Linked DNA regions of Homo sapiens: regions 2 and 3 are each reported to be linked to region 1. Evidence: microRNA targets listed by miRTarBase, many of them from high-throughput screens and not tested one by one. Region 1 holds a microRNA gene; each other region holds the end of a gene's coding sequence. Distances are from middle to middle.

Region 1 (4,068 bases):
ATATCATTAACCAAAAGCATCACAACCAAATAAACTATATTTACCTCTAAAAACTAGACTTATTCTGAAACTACAGAACAGTACAAGAAATTATATATAATCACTACATTGCAACACTTTTCAAACATTCTTATAGCAACATTTATGACGTAACAACATACCAGTTCAGATTTGAAGTAGCCTATTGTGTTTTCATCCAATTGAAAATATCTTCTCTTCCAGTTTTTCATCTACCAGAGATGAACACAGACATAAGACTTGTGTTTCTAAGAATGTCAAATGTTAGTCACCACTTAATTACCCTGATATGAACCCACAATCAGACATGCCAAGCAGTGAAAAATCTCATTACTTCCCTTAGAGATGCGATAAATTAAACCTCATCCCTCTCTAGCTACCCAGGCTTTGAATTCCTAATTCAATTTCTGGTGCCTGGCTTTCATCTTTTATTGTATGATTTTATGTGTTTTTTTTTTTTTTTTTTGAGACAGAGTCTTGCTCTGTCACCCAGGCTGGAGTGCAATGGCGCGATCTCGGCTCACTGCCTCTGCCTTCTGGGTTCAAGCAATTCTCCTGCATCAGCCTCTCGAGTAGCTGGGATTACAGGCTCCCATCACTATGCCCAGCTAATTTTTGTATTTTTAGTAGAGACAGGGTTTCACCATGTTAGTCAGGCTGGTCTCAAACTCCTGACCTCAGGTGATCCGCCCACCTTGGCCTCCCAAAATGCTGGGATTACAGGCGTGAGCCACCATGCCTGGCCTATTTCATATTTTTAATGTTGAAACTTTTTTTTTTTTTAAAAGCACTTCCCCTTCCTCCTACTCCTCGCCCCCGCCAACCCCATGTAAAGAGCAAACACAGGAAATGTTATTAAACCACATCAAGTTTCTCCATCTGTAAAAACATATGAATTCTTCCACAAGTACTTTATACATAGTAGTAAAGCACTAAATATTTAATAAAGTAAACCTATTTTGTACAAATATTTTTTGTCAATAAAATAACAGTTTTTGCAGAAGCACTTAAATATCTCTGACTGGTATTTTGGACTTAAGAGTAAAACAAAAAGGAACCATCAGGCTATGATCCTCAGTTGTGTGTAAAATTAGGGCTTTCAATCTACACACAACTGAGCATCACAGCCTGATGAGAATTCTGACTCTACCTGCAGACATTGTACAGTAAGAAACCCCTGCCCTCACCATCATTTTCCTCAGCCTAAAGCAGGTCAAACAGGTGAAAGGACATTCCCCTGGCTGCCCTAAAAAAATTAAGAGTTGCCAAAAAGTGATGAGAAGTCAAACAGAACCACCAAAATAATTTTAAGTATTTCTTTACTCACAGACTTAAAAAACATTTTCAAACTTTAAAGTTAATTTTCTCATGAAATTCTAAAGATTTAGTTCACATAGAAAGAATGGCTTAGATACTAAGGTATGTTGCAACCTTAGAAATATTGGTAAATTTACTTGCTCTTGCAAAAAATTCATCATGGAACTGATTATATGGGAATACCTGGGCTAACCCATAACAGCTTTTACTAAGTACCAGGTGCTGTGCAAAGGGAAACACACCTTTCTTATTTACATCTCTTAAAAAACAAAAACAAAACAAAACAAAACCCTAGATGGTAGGTTTTATATGATATTCCTTAAGACAGAAACTGAGGGCCTGAGAGGTTAAGTAAGTAGCCCAAGGTCAGAGAGCTTACCACGGAGGTCAGGCCAATGCCTAAACAAGGAAGAGACCTCCTAGGCACCACTCCTTCTCCTGCCGCTGGCCTGCCATCTCCCCACAACAGCTCTCTTTCCCTGACCCACTCCTGAGTATGAGTAAAGATGAATAGAAACACTTTCTAAAACATTAAACTGTTAGGAAAGCTCATTTAAACTGAAAGTCAGTGGTAATGGGCATTAACTTTCCTGGCCCCCTGCAAACCAAGCAAATAACAGCATTGAATTATAAACAGAGAATATCCCCTATTTTATCTCCTGACTCTCCTCAGCATGCCGGTCTCTCACTTTGGGTCTTTCATAAAATAAAGCAAACAATTTCCATGTTAATTTGAGTTTGCTAGAACGTAATCCTTTTTCATTATTTCATGTATTTTGTTAAGCTACTCACCACTGCTCCTTGTTTTACACAATATCCAGCTTTGATAACCGCACTATCTTGAGGTGGTTTAGGAGTAAAGTAAGGAAGATGGCTTTGTGACCGTTTCAGATTATTTCTGTCAATACTTTCACCACATTCATTTACTTCTTCTTTCTAAAATGAAGCAAAATAAATAAATTATTTTCTTGCTTGTTTAGCATACTTTTATTTCATATTATCCCAGTAGAAAATCTTAAAATCCACCTTAGATTAGTCAGAAACAGATTTTTGAAGAGTTTTCTAATTAATCTGAGATACTTACTCTTAATTTTCCTGTCACTGATTAAAGCACAAATTTCCATTCCTCTTGTTTTGCACAAGTCCTGCCACCAGTGCTCTTTTTTGGGGAAGGAGTTAACTTTTTATTTTGAAATAATTATAAGGATTCACCAGAAGCTGCCCAAAAAAAGTACAACAGGTCCTATGTACCCTTTCACTAGTTTCCCCTCAAAGGGAAACGGCGTAACATTATCAAAAAACAAGAAATGGACATTGGCACAACCCACAAACTTTATTCGGATTCCACCAGTTTTACATACATTCATCTATGTGTGTCTATACAGTTCTATGCAGTTTTATCACATGTGTAGATCTGTGTAACTACTACCACATTTAAGACCCAGAATTGGTCATCACCCCAAGGCTCCTTTGTGAACTTTAGAGTTCCTACCCCTAAATCCCCTGGCAGCCACTAATCTGTTCTCCAAGACTATAATTTTGACATTTTGAAAATGTAATGTAAATGGAAGCATACAGAAGGTTATCTTTTGAGATTATCTTTTTTCACTCAGCATAATTCTCTAGAGATTCGTCCAGACTGTTCCTTGTATCTAGAGTTCATTCCTTTTTATTGCTATATTTCCATGGTATGGATGGATGACCAGTTGTTTAACTGTTCACCCATTAAAGGACATTTGAGTTGTTTCCCACTTTTAGCTATTAGGAAAAAAGCTGCTATCAACATTCATGCACAAGTTTTTATGTGAATGTAATTTTCCCTTTCTCTACGATAAACACCTAGTCCTGCAAATGCTGGGTTGTACAGTAATCACAAGCTTACTTTTATTATTAAAAAAAAAACAAAACATAAACACTAAACTGTTTTTCAGAGTGGCTAATTTTCATTCCCACCAGCAACACCTGAGAGATTATGTTTCTCCTCAACCTTGGCAGCATTTGTGTCGTCACTTTTATTTCAGCCATTCTGAGAGGTGTGCAGTGATCTTTTATTGTGCTCTTAATTTGTATTTTTTCCCTGCTAGCTAATGATGGTGAACATCTTTTCATGTGCTTACTTACCATCTGTTTATCTTTTATCTTTTGATGAAATATCTGTTCATGAATTTTCTAATTGGATTTCTTGGGCTTTTTACTGTTGGGTTCTGAGTTCTTTCTATGTTCTAGATAAAAGTCCTTTGTTGGACATGTGGTTTGCAAATATTTTCTCCCAGTTTGTAGCTTTTCTTTTCATCCTCTTAAGAAGGTCTTTCATAGAGCAAGTATTTTTTATTTTGATGAGGTCCAATTTACCAATTTTTGCCTTTTATGATAGACATATATTATTTTATAATTTTTAAAACTATACTACAAAATAAATGATGCAATAAAATTATACCCTCCATAAAATCCTAGAAACTACTGAAATATCTATACCAAAATTACAATGCAACAAAATCTTAACTCTAGACAAAATTAAAACAGCCACAGATACAAACTAATACAGTGTCTTAACACAACTACAGGAAAATAGTCTTACCCCTTATGTCAACATAGGTCATAATACCAGTGAAAGAAGCTTAATCTAGGTACATAGTAACCAGAAGGTTAACAGTTTAAAATCATTACTTTTGGAAAAAGTAAACACACAATCCTAGCTTATTTTTTTATCCAACTTTGGTGGAAAATGTATGC
Region 2 (4,068 bases), 51 Mb from region 1:
CTCCTATCAGGGGAGTTCATGGGAGCAGGAGGGAACACGGGTGGGAGGAATGACCACATGCTAGACGTGGTCATTCTCTCTTGGGGCCAGTGTCTTTCAATGATAATAATGATGATGATGAACAAGATGGTTACATGCTAGAGACAACGCTAGACCCTTACTTTATATGATCTTGGATCTTGCTGAGCGGTAACTGGCATTGTTCCCATTTTAGAGACAAGGAGACTGAGATTCTGAGCCATAGGTTCTGAATTGCCGAGAGCCACACAGACTGCAGCACAGTAGCTGCAATTCAGACCCAGGACAGTGGGACACCAAAGCTCACAGCCTTCCCACTTCCCCTTGTGCCCCTTCACCTCCAGGCTCCGGGGAGGGGCTAAGTGCTTGGGAACCTCAGTGCCCTCCTTCCCTCTGCCAGGTACCTGAATTACTTTGCCACCAAAGCGAGCCCCACGGGTGTGATCCTGGACCTCTGGGAAGCTCTGCAGCAGGACGATGGGGACCTCAACAGCCTGGCGAGTGCCTTGGAGGAGATGGGCAAGAGTGAGATGCTGGTGGCTGTGGCCACCGACGGGGACTGCTGAGCCTCCTGGGACAGCGGGCTGGCAGGGACTGGCAGGAGGCAGGTGCAGGGAGGCCTGGGGCAGCCTCCTGATGGGGATGTTTGGCCTCTGCTTCCTCCCAGTTCACAGCCAGAGTTGCCTCTCCTCCTCCTCTTCCCCAACCCCCAGACCATGACCAGCCTTAGAAAATCCATGTACTCTGTTGTTAGAGGGCCCAGAGTTCCTTCTCCACCCCCGCTCTCTCTCTCTTGGCCTGAGATCTCTGTGCAGGAACCAAGATGGGGCTGAAGCCTCTGGAGGCAGTTGGTTGGGGGCGGGCAGGCAGGAGGCCCTCCCTCCACCCCCCCACCCTCAGCCCGGCAACTTCTGGGTTCCATGGGTTTTAGTTCCGTTCTCGTTTTCTTCCTCCGTTATTGATTTCTCCTTTCTCCCTAAGCCCCCTTCTGCTTCCACGCCCTTTTCCTCTTTGAAGAGTCAAGTACAATTCAGACAAACTGCTTTCTCCTGTCCAAAAGCAAAAAGGCAAAGGAAAGAAAGAAAGCTTCAGACCGCTAGTAAGGCTCAAAGAAGAAGAAAAACACCAAAACCACAAGGGAAAAGAAAAACCCAGTTTCTTAGGAAACGCAAACGATTTATTATCCAGATTATTTGGATAAGTCCTTTTTAAGAAAAAAAAAGAAAATGAAAAACAACACAAAAAAAATAGAAAACTCTTTTCTTGAGTGTGGATGAGAATGGGCACGCTCACACTTCTGGCCAGGAGTGAATGTGCCTGTGTGTGTGTGTGTGTGTGTGTGTGTGTGTGTACATGTACGCGTGTGCATTGAGGAGAGAGAGACTGAACAGAGAGTACTTTGCTGCTAACGAATCCATCTTGGACTAAATTCTGACAAGGCCTCAGTTTCCCCAGTTGTGCAGGGAGTAGGTCAGACAGGGTTTTCACTGTCTAGATTTAGCTGGTTAGATTTTCCTCTAAAATCTTAAGCAGATGCTGAATCCATAAAGCCAAGGAGTGCTGAGGGCTGGAGTGGGTGGGCCCTCCCTCCCACAGCCCCAGGGAGATACATCTGGACTCCTGGGAATCTGGATTAAGAAAGTTGGGATGAAAGAGGAGGACTGCTCAGGCCAGTTGTGAGCCAGGGAGAATGTTCCAGTCTGGTTTTGGTCTGGTGGCTCCTAGAAAGGGATGTGGCCCAGAAGTGGGACTCAAACAGAGAGATGAAGTAGGGGAGGGGAGTCCTCCACGGGCATCTCTCTCCTGGCGGCTGGATAGCTTTACCCTAGGGTGGGGCCAGCCCTGACACCCTCATCCCCTCCTCAGCCCAGCAGCCTCTAGAGCAGCGTGGTGCTCTCTTGATGGCCAGGAATCCAGAATCTGCCCTTCCCCAACCTTGGTTTCTCCTTCTGTAAAGCAGAGTGATGGCTGAGAAGTCCTCTCTAGCTGCAGAAGCCTGAGCTTCCCGGTGTCAGTCAGCTCTGCAACGTGGGAGCCTTGGAGGCGGGTGGCCTGGCTGTGCTTCATATGCCCAGGAGTGGAGAAGGAGGCTGAGAAGCTGGTTTCCCAGCTCTGATCTCCACAGGCACCTCCTATAACCCTCCTCTCACCCACCCCGCTACGGTCTGAGAGATCTGAAATAACCTTTCCCAGTGGGCAGGGTTGCCAGGGTTGAGGGGACAGCACATACCACCCCCACCCAACCTGTTCGAGGGGCCCTGCATGGCACGGGATGAGTCCCTGCCCTGTGCAGCTGCCTGGCAGTGGCTGGGACAAGGATCTTGCAGCCAGCACAGAGGCCTCTTCAAAGGCCTCTCCCTCTTGGCACTCCAGGCAAGGCAGGTGCCCGCTTCCCCAACACCTCCAGGCAGTGACCCTAGGGCATGCCCCAGCAGGTCTCCGAGCAGCCACTGGGACCCGTCTCAGCACATCCTGGCCTTTGAAAGTCTGATATCCTGAGAGGAGGGCAGGTTTTAGGGCCGCAGTTCCAGCCAGCGTCCCCAGCCTGGCTTCCCTGCCATGGACTCAGTAGCTCGTGGGGCTTCTTACCACCCACCAGCCCCGCTGGGGTGCGGCCTGGCTGTGGGCAAAGGAGGACTTGCCTGGAGATTTGAGAGAAGATTCCTTCTACCAGGGCTGCTGAGGGGCCAGGCCTGCATCAGGGGCTAGGCTCTGGCTGGGCCCGGAGGCTGAGACTAAGGCTTTCGACCCTGGTGCCTCCATGTGGATGCTGCCTCAGACAAAGGCAGTGAGCCTTCCCTGCCAAAGTGCCCATCCCATGGGCTCGGCCTCACTGGTCACTGTTAGCCCATGAACACGTGTGGGCCTCGGTCACGTGGCTTTGAGGGCAGTCTGACCAGGCTAGACCACACGTGCCGTGACAGGGGGTGCCATTCCCCTCGCAGGCTCTAATGTGCCCACATGTAGCCTGGCAGTCCAAAGACCAAGAATCAACTTGCAAATCTGCCATTAAACTGCTGTGCGACTTCAGGCATATCACTGCCTTCTCTGGGCTTCAGTGTCCTTTTCATACCTAGAAGTCTGCGGTCTGAGGCTCTTTGGGTTCAGACACACTGTTCTAGGCTTCTGTAGGGGACCTTGTGATCTGCCGTGCCCCTCCTCCCTGTTCTTTTCTGTCCTCCCCACCCCACCCTCAGAAGCTGCTTGCTCTGCCCCCAGGACAGGAGCTTGACGGATGAAGTGCAGCCAGCCACCCAGGTGCCATTTCCAGTCTGACTTCCAGAAATGTGCACCATGTCCTAGAGCACAGACCCATTGGCTGGAGCCTCCTGGGAGGGTTCAAACCATCAGCTCTATGAGAAATGCCCAGAAAGGCTTTGCCGACTCCATCCGTCTGTGGAGGCTGCCTGCCTCCGGGGTGGGATGGGTGGTTTCTCCTCCAATTCAGACCCAAGAGGTAGCCCCCGAGGGCATGTACCTGGTGGGAAGCAGCTCAGGTACCCTTGGGGGTTGCAGGGCCCTTACGCAGGTATTTCTCTCTCTCTCCTCTCTGGGGTGCGTGTGTGCGTGCGCGTGTGCGTGCCTATGCTTTTCTCTGTGGGCACATCAGGATGCCCCTCGGAGAGCATGTGCACGTGTCCCCACCTGAGCGAGCGTGTGTGTGTGCTCCTCTGCGTCCCAGGTTTGGACGTCTAGGGTTTGGTGTGCCTGTCTTCTGCCCTCCCTGAGCCCACAGGGTCAGTCAATGTATCTTCTACGTGCCTCTCCCTCTGCCTTCTCTCACAGTGCCCCCGGCTCCAGAGCTCAGGGGTAGGGGTTCTCCTGAGGGTGCAGGGGATCCTTCTCATCTCCTGGACCCTCCAGGGCACTCTGGTCCCTATTCCCCAGCTCCTAGGCAGCTGAGCCGGGTCCCTTAGGGGAGGTGACCAGGAGCTTTGGTGCAGGGAGCTCTTGGTGGGGCAAAGGGCTGGACCCCTGCCAGGTCTGTGGACATGGTTATATGCCCGGGAGAGGGGGGTGCAGGGCCCCAGGGATGGCCCCCAATCCCAC
Region 3 (4,068 bases), not on the chromosome of region 1:
CGGAAAATTACCATTTTTGAAGTGCTGGAGAGCAAAGGGGATAATGAGGGAGAAAGAAACATGCTGGTCTTGGTGTCTGGGGAGATATATGGAACCAACAGTGAGTGGGAGACTTTTGATGTCACAGATGCCATCAGACGTTGGCAAAAGTCAGGCTCATCCACCCACCAGCTGGAGGTCCACATTGAGAGCAAACACGATGAAGCTGAGGATGCCAGCAGTGGACGGCTAGAAATAGATACCAGTGCCCAGAATAAGCATAACCCTTTGCTCATCGTGTTTTCTGATGACCAAAGCAGTGACAAGGAGAGGAAGGAGGAACTGAATGAAATGATTTCCCATGAGCAACTTCCAGAGCTGGACAACTTGGGCCTGGATAGCTTTTCCAGTGGACCTGGGGAAGAGGCTTTGTTGCAGATGAGATCAAACATCATCTATGACTCCACTGCCCGAATCAGAAGGAACGCCAAAGGAAACTACTGTAAGAGGACCCCGCTCTACATCGACTTCAAGGAGATTGGGTGGGACTCCTGGATCATCGCTCCGCCTGGATACGAAGCCTATGAATGCCGTGGTGTTTGTAACTACCCCCTGGCAGAGCATCTCACACCCACAAAGCATGCAATTATCCAGGCCTTGGTCCACCTCAAGAATTCCCAGAAAGCTTCCAAAGCCTGCTGTGTGCCCACAAAGCTAGAGCCCATCTCCATCCTCTATTTAGACAAAGGCGTCGTCACCTACAAGTTTAAATACGAAGGCATGGCCGTCTCCGAATGTGGCTGTAGATAGAAGAAGAGTCCTATGGCTTATTTAATAACTGTAAATGTGTATATTTGGTGTTCCTATTTAATGAGATTATTTAATAAGGGTGTACAGTAATAGAGGCTTGCTGCCTTCAGGAAATGGACAGGTCAGTTTGTTGTAGGAAATGCATATTTTCCTCTCCAGTTAAGTCCCTTTCAATCTGTTTTCTCTTTGGACTTGCCATTTCCTGGCAATGCCACCTCCCTGTTGATTTGAAAACAACCCCTAGGCAAAATACAGTGTCAAAAGACACACACTTGTGTATGTATATTTGTACATACATGAACTTACAAAAATCTTTTGGTTCTATGCAGGCAGGTTATACTCATCTACATGCATGACTCACTCAAATGTATGCATATTAAAGGCCAATGGTATGTTCTCTGTTACCTCTTCTCTGAGTAGGATTTAAGTCAAGATAATTGACATCAGGGTTTTAATCATCCTAGGAAGTATTACCCTTCCTAAATACTCTGGAAATGTAAGTGTAGCTTTTGTCAGTTGAGTTTCTGTAGTTGCTCAGAGAGGAGGGGCCTGGCAAAGGATGCTTGAAGGGAAGGGTTAATTGATACAGAAACCAAATGGACTTAAGAGGTCTTAGAGGTACAACAGGAAAAAATGAACCCATGGAGGACCAATGTGCTCCAGAGGGCAACTCCTGGTCAAGGCAGGAAAACAGAAGAAACCAGCATGAAATCTGTTCCTGAGACAATAGGAAAGCAAGGCCATGAGTACTGGCCATTGCTGCTGCAGAGAGTAGAGGGGTTGGGAGGGTACTTGAAGGGGAGAAAGGGAGAAAGGGAAGAGGATATTGATGTTATCCTCAGAGGCTATCCTCAGATGTGTCTGTAAAACCAAAAGTGGTTCTGTTTAAAGAATTAAATCTTTTGGACAAAATAGAAGTATCAAAGACTAAGAGGAGGAAAATCAGAAGGGGTCTGTCTGTTGGAAGAAAGGATGTTAATATCTTTCTTCACCTGTTAACACTGTTCCCTTGTCTCAGCACCCCTGCTTTCCTCTGCTCCATCTTCTTCCTTCCCTCTTTCTTCTTGGCCCTAGTGCCTCTCACCTTCCTCCCATCCCTGTGTCCCTGCTCTTCCCTGGCCTTCATGATGCATGCTGTGAACTGGAAAGGGACACCTAAGTGCCTTTGCTCTCAGGGTGAAAGGAGTTAGTGTTCTAATTTCTAAATCTTCCCGTGATATTTAATTTGATTTTATTTTAATAATATCCTTTATCAAATGTTTTGTTCATGAAGAATACTTAGATATAAGAGAAAAGAAAACCAGAATAAGTAAGTATAAGAAAAAGAAAACCAGAGTCCAAATGAATGGATTTAAATAAACGAATTTATGAATAGACACACAAGCAAATGACTCAAAAGCCAAGCCTGAATTTTGAAATCATGATTGTTTCATGGTAGAAACCCAGTAACTTTCCCATCTTCTCATCTTACCATCTTCCCATTTTGCAACTGGCCAGGACTGAAAGTGGTGAGGAAGTGTTCTGCACAGGAAGGGTCCGGTGGGTTTTCCTGGCAGGTGGCAGCCTCCAGTCTTAACCCCTAACCATTTCCCTCTACCTGGCAAGCATATTCTGGGCTTTGTGCAGGAGGAACCAGAGCAGAGCAGAGCAGTTTCCAAACTGTTCCAGCATCTCCAGGCAGGGAACATGGATGGTTCCTGTTAGAACCAGGAATGTGGTTTCCAGTACGTCATCCCCCATTCACCCCTACTCATCTTAAGGAATGCTTCCTTAAGAAGTCTGACACTTTTTTCTTTTTTTTACCCTGGAAAACAATCAGTCCCCTTTTACAAATCTCTTAAGGTTATAAACTCAAACTGCACTAGACAATAGAGGCAAGGAAAACTATTTTGAAGAAGGCCCAATTTGAACCTCAGCTCGCTAGATCTGTTGTCTGCTGGGTGAATCCTGGGGAATTCATTGCTCATGGAAGAGTGGTGTTTTGACCGTCAGTGGGTATACAGTGATTGATGCTTTGAGAAAGCCATGCAACTCAGAATCACTATTTGTGGAACAGCCTCCATATAACATGATGTGTGTATGTGTGTGTGATGTATAGCTGGCTTTGAATAACCACGCTTAATACCCTCAGTGGAACGTGGTGCATCCTTCATACTCCATGGTACACAATGTATACTCACATACTCCAAGGTACTTCTTATCCTTTCTAAAGGACACTGTAATACATACACAGTAAAACCTCAGCTGACCAGGATAGTCCTGGTTAGATAAAAATTAAGCAAATTTTCTTTATGTCTAATACATATGACAGTGGTGTGCTGGTAAAACCCTTACAACCAGCAATCCAGGGGGAGAAAAAGCCCTGATTTGTGGATTTCAATGCTGCAAACGCTCCTACATGGTCTATCTTGAGCTGCCAAGGTGATGTCAACTGGCTTGCAAAACTTCTAAAACCTAAGTCAGCTCTTGGGAGCTGTGCACTGGTGCTGGCACACCGCTGACATTTAGTATCCCACTGACATTAGCACACCGCTGACATTAGCACCCTGATACTAGAATGTTAAGGATGTGCCAGCCCTGCTTTCCACTGTGTGCGCTGCTGGCTCCGGGCTTCTGGAGAAATCTTGTCTCGAGCACTTATAGTCACTCTTCTGTTAAAGAGATATGAAAATATAGGCTGTTGGCGATCAGGCTGCATAGCCCAGTTGTTTCTTTCTGCCCATCCAGATGTAAACCTGCATTTCTATGATTTTCTGCTTCCCTGTGGAAAGGGAGTGCAGAGAGCAACATATTGTTATTCAAATGTTGCTAGTTGTATTTTTTTGGCTTTTTGTCAGAAAGTGAAAAGACACAGCCCGTAGAGGAGTTCTCCCAGCTCCCACCGGAACCCCGGCAGCACACCGGTGTCACTTTCAACTCCTGCATTGACAGGAAGCCAGAATATTGTCAGATCCTTAAAAAGGTAGAATCTTACTAATGTTTCTCTGGTCATAGACCTTCTTCTGGGTCCCATGCCAGTTTTTTTCCCCCTTTTATTGCAGAATTATCATCACCGAAGTTGATATAGCTAAACAACTCTTGAGGAGAATTATAGCAGAGGGACTTGGGCAGCCCACAGCCAAAATATTCATGTAAGAGTTTCTAGGCTTCCCACTATTTATTGATTGATATATTTATTTTTGTAAAATATTGTAGAATACCAAATATTTTATTTTTATGTCTGTGATTCCCTTTTGGATAGAGAGTCTTCTGGGCTTCAGAGTATGGCTCACATATAAT

What was found. The annotated mature microRNA hsa-miR-3941 reads UUACACACAACUGAGGAUCAUA and lies in region 1 at 1,085-1,106, opposite strand. An mRNA with a match to its seed (bases 2 to 7 or 8) in the 3' UTR can be bound and repressed. Matches are read on the target gene's strand: a 7mer-m8 pairs with bases 2 to 8, a 7mer-A1 pairs with bases 2 to 7 and ends in A, and an 8mer does both.
Region 2: miRTarBase lists UNC5B as a target of hsa-miR-3941. Seed matches in the 3' UTR shown: 7mer-m8 at 1,364-1,370.
Region 3: miRTarBase lists BMP10 as a target of hsa-miR-3941. Seed matches in the 3' UTR shown: 7mer-m8 at 2,863-2,869.

Annotation. Positions count from the first base shown.
Region 1 is chr10:122,414,062-122,418,129 of GRCh38, reverse strand. It overlaps MIR3941 (microRNA 3941), which reads right to left and starts at 1,165; the gene lies at 1,063-1,165. PLEKHA1 (pleckstrin homology domain containing A1) reads right to left here. Exons shown (of 12, transcript NM_001001974.4): 7 at 2,128-2,271; 8 at 162-230.
Region 2 is chr10:71,298,694-71,302,761 of GRCh38, forward strand. UNC5B (unc-5 netrin receptor B) reads left to right here. Exons shown (of 17, transcript NM_170744.5): 17 at 419-4,068. The coding sequence ends at 584. Among named protein-coding and RNA genes, the nearest start is that of SLC29A3, 19 kb to the right of the region's middle.
Region 3 is chr2:68,862,352-68,866,419 of GRCh38, reverse strand. BMP10 (bone morphogenetic protein 10) reads left to right here. Exons shown (of 2, transcript NM_014482.3): 2 at 1-4,068. The coding sequence ends at 789. Among named protein-coding and RNA genes, the nearest start is that of BMP10, 7.0 kb to the left of the region's middle.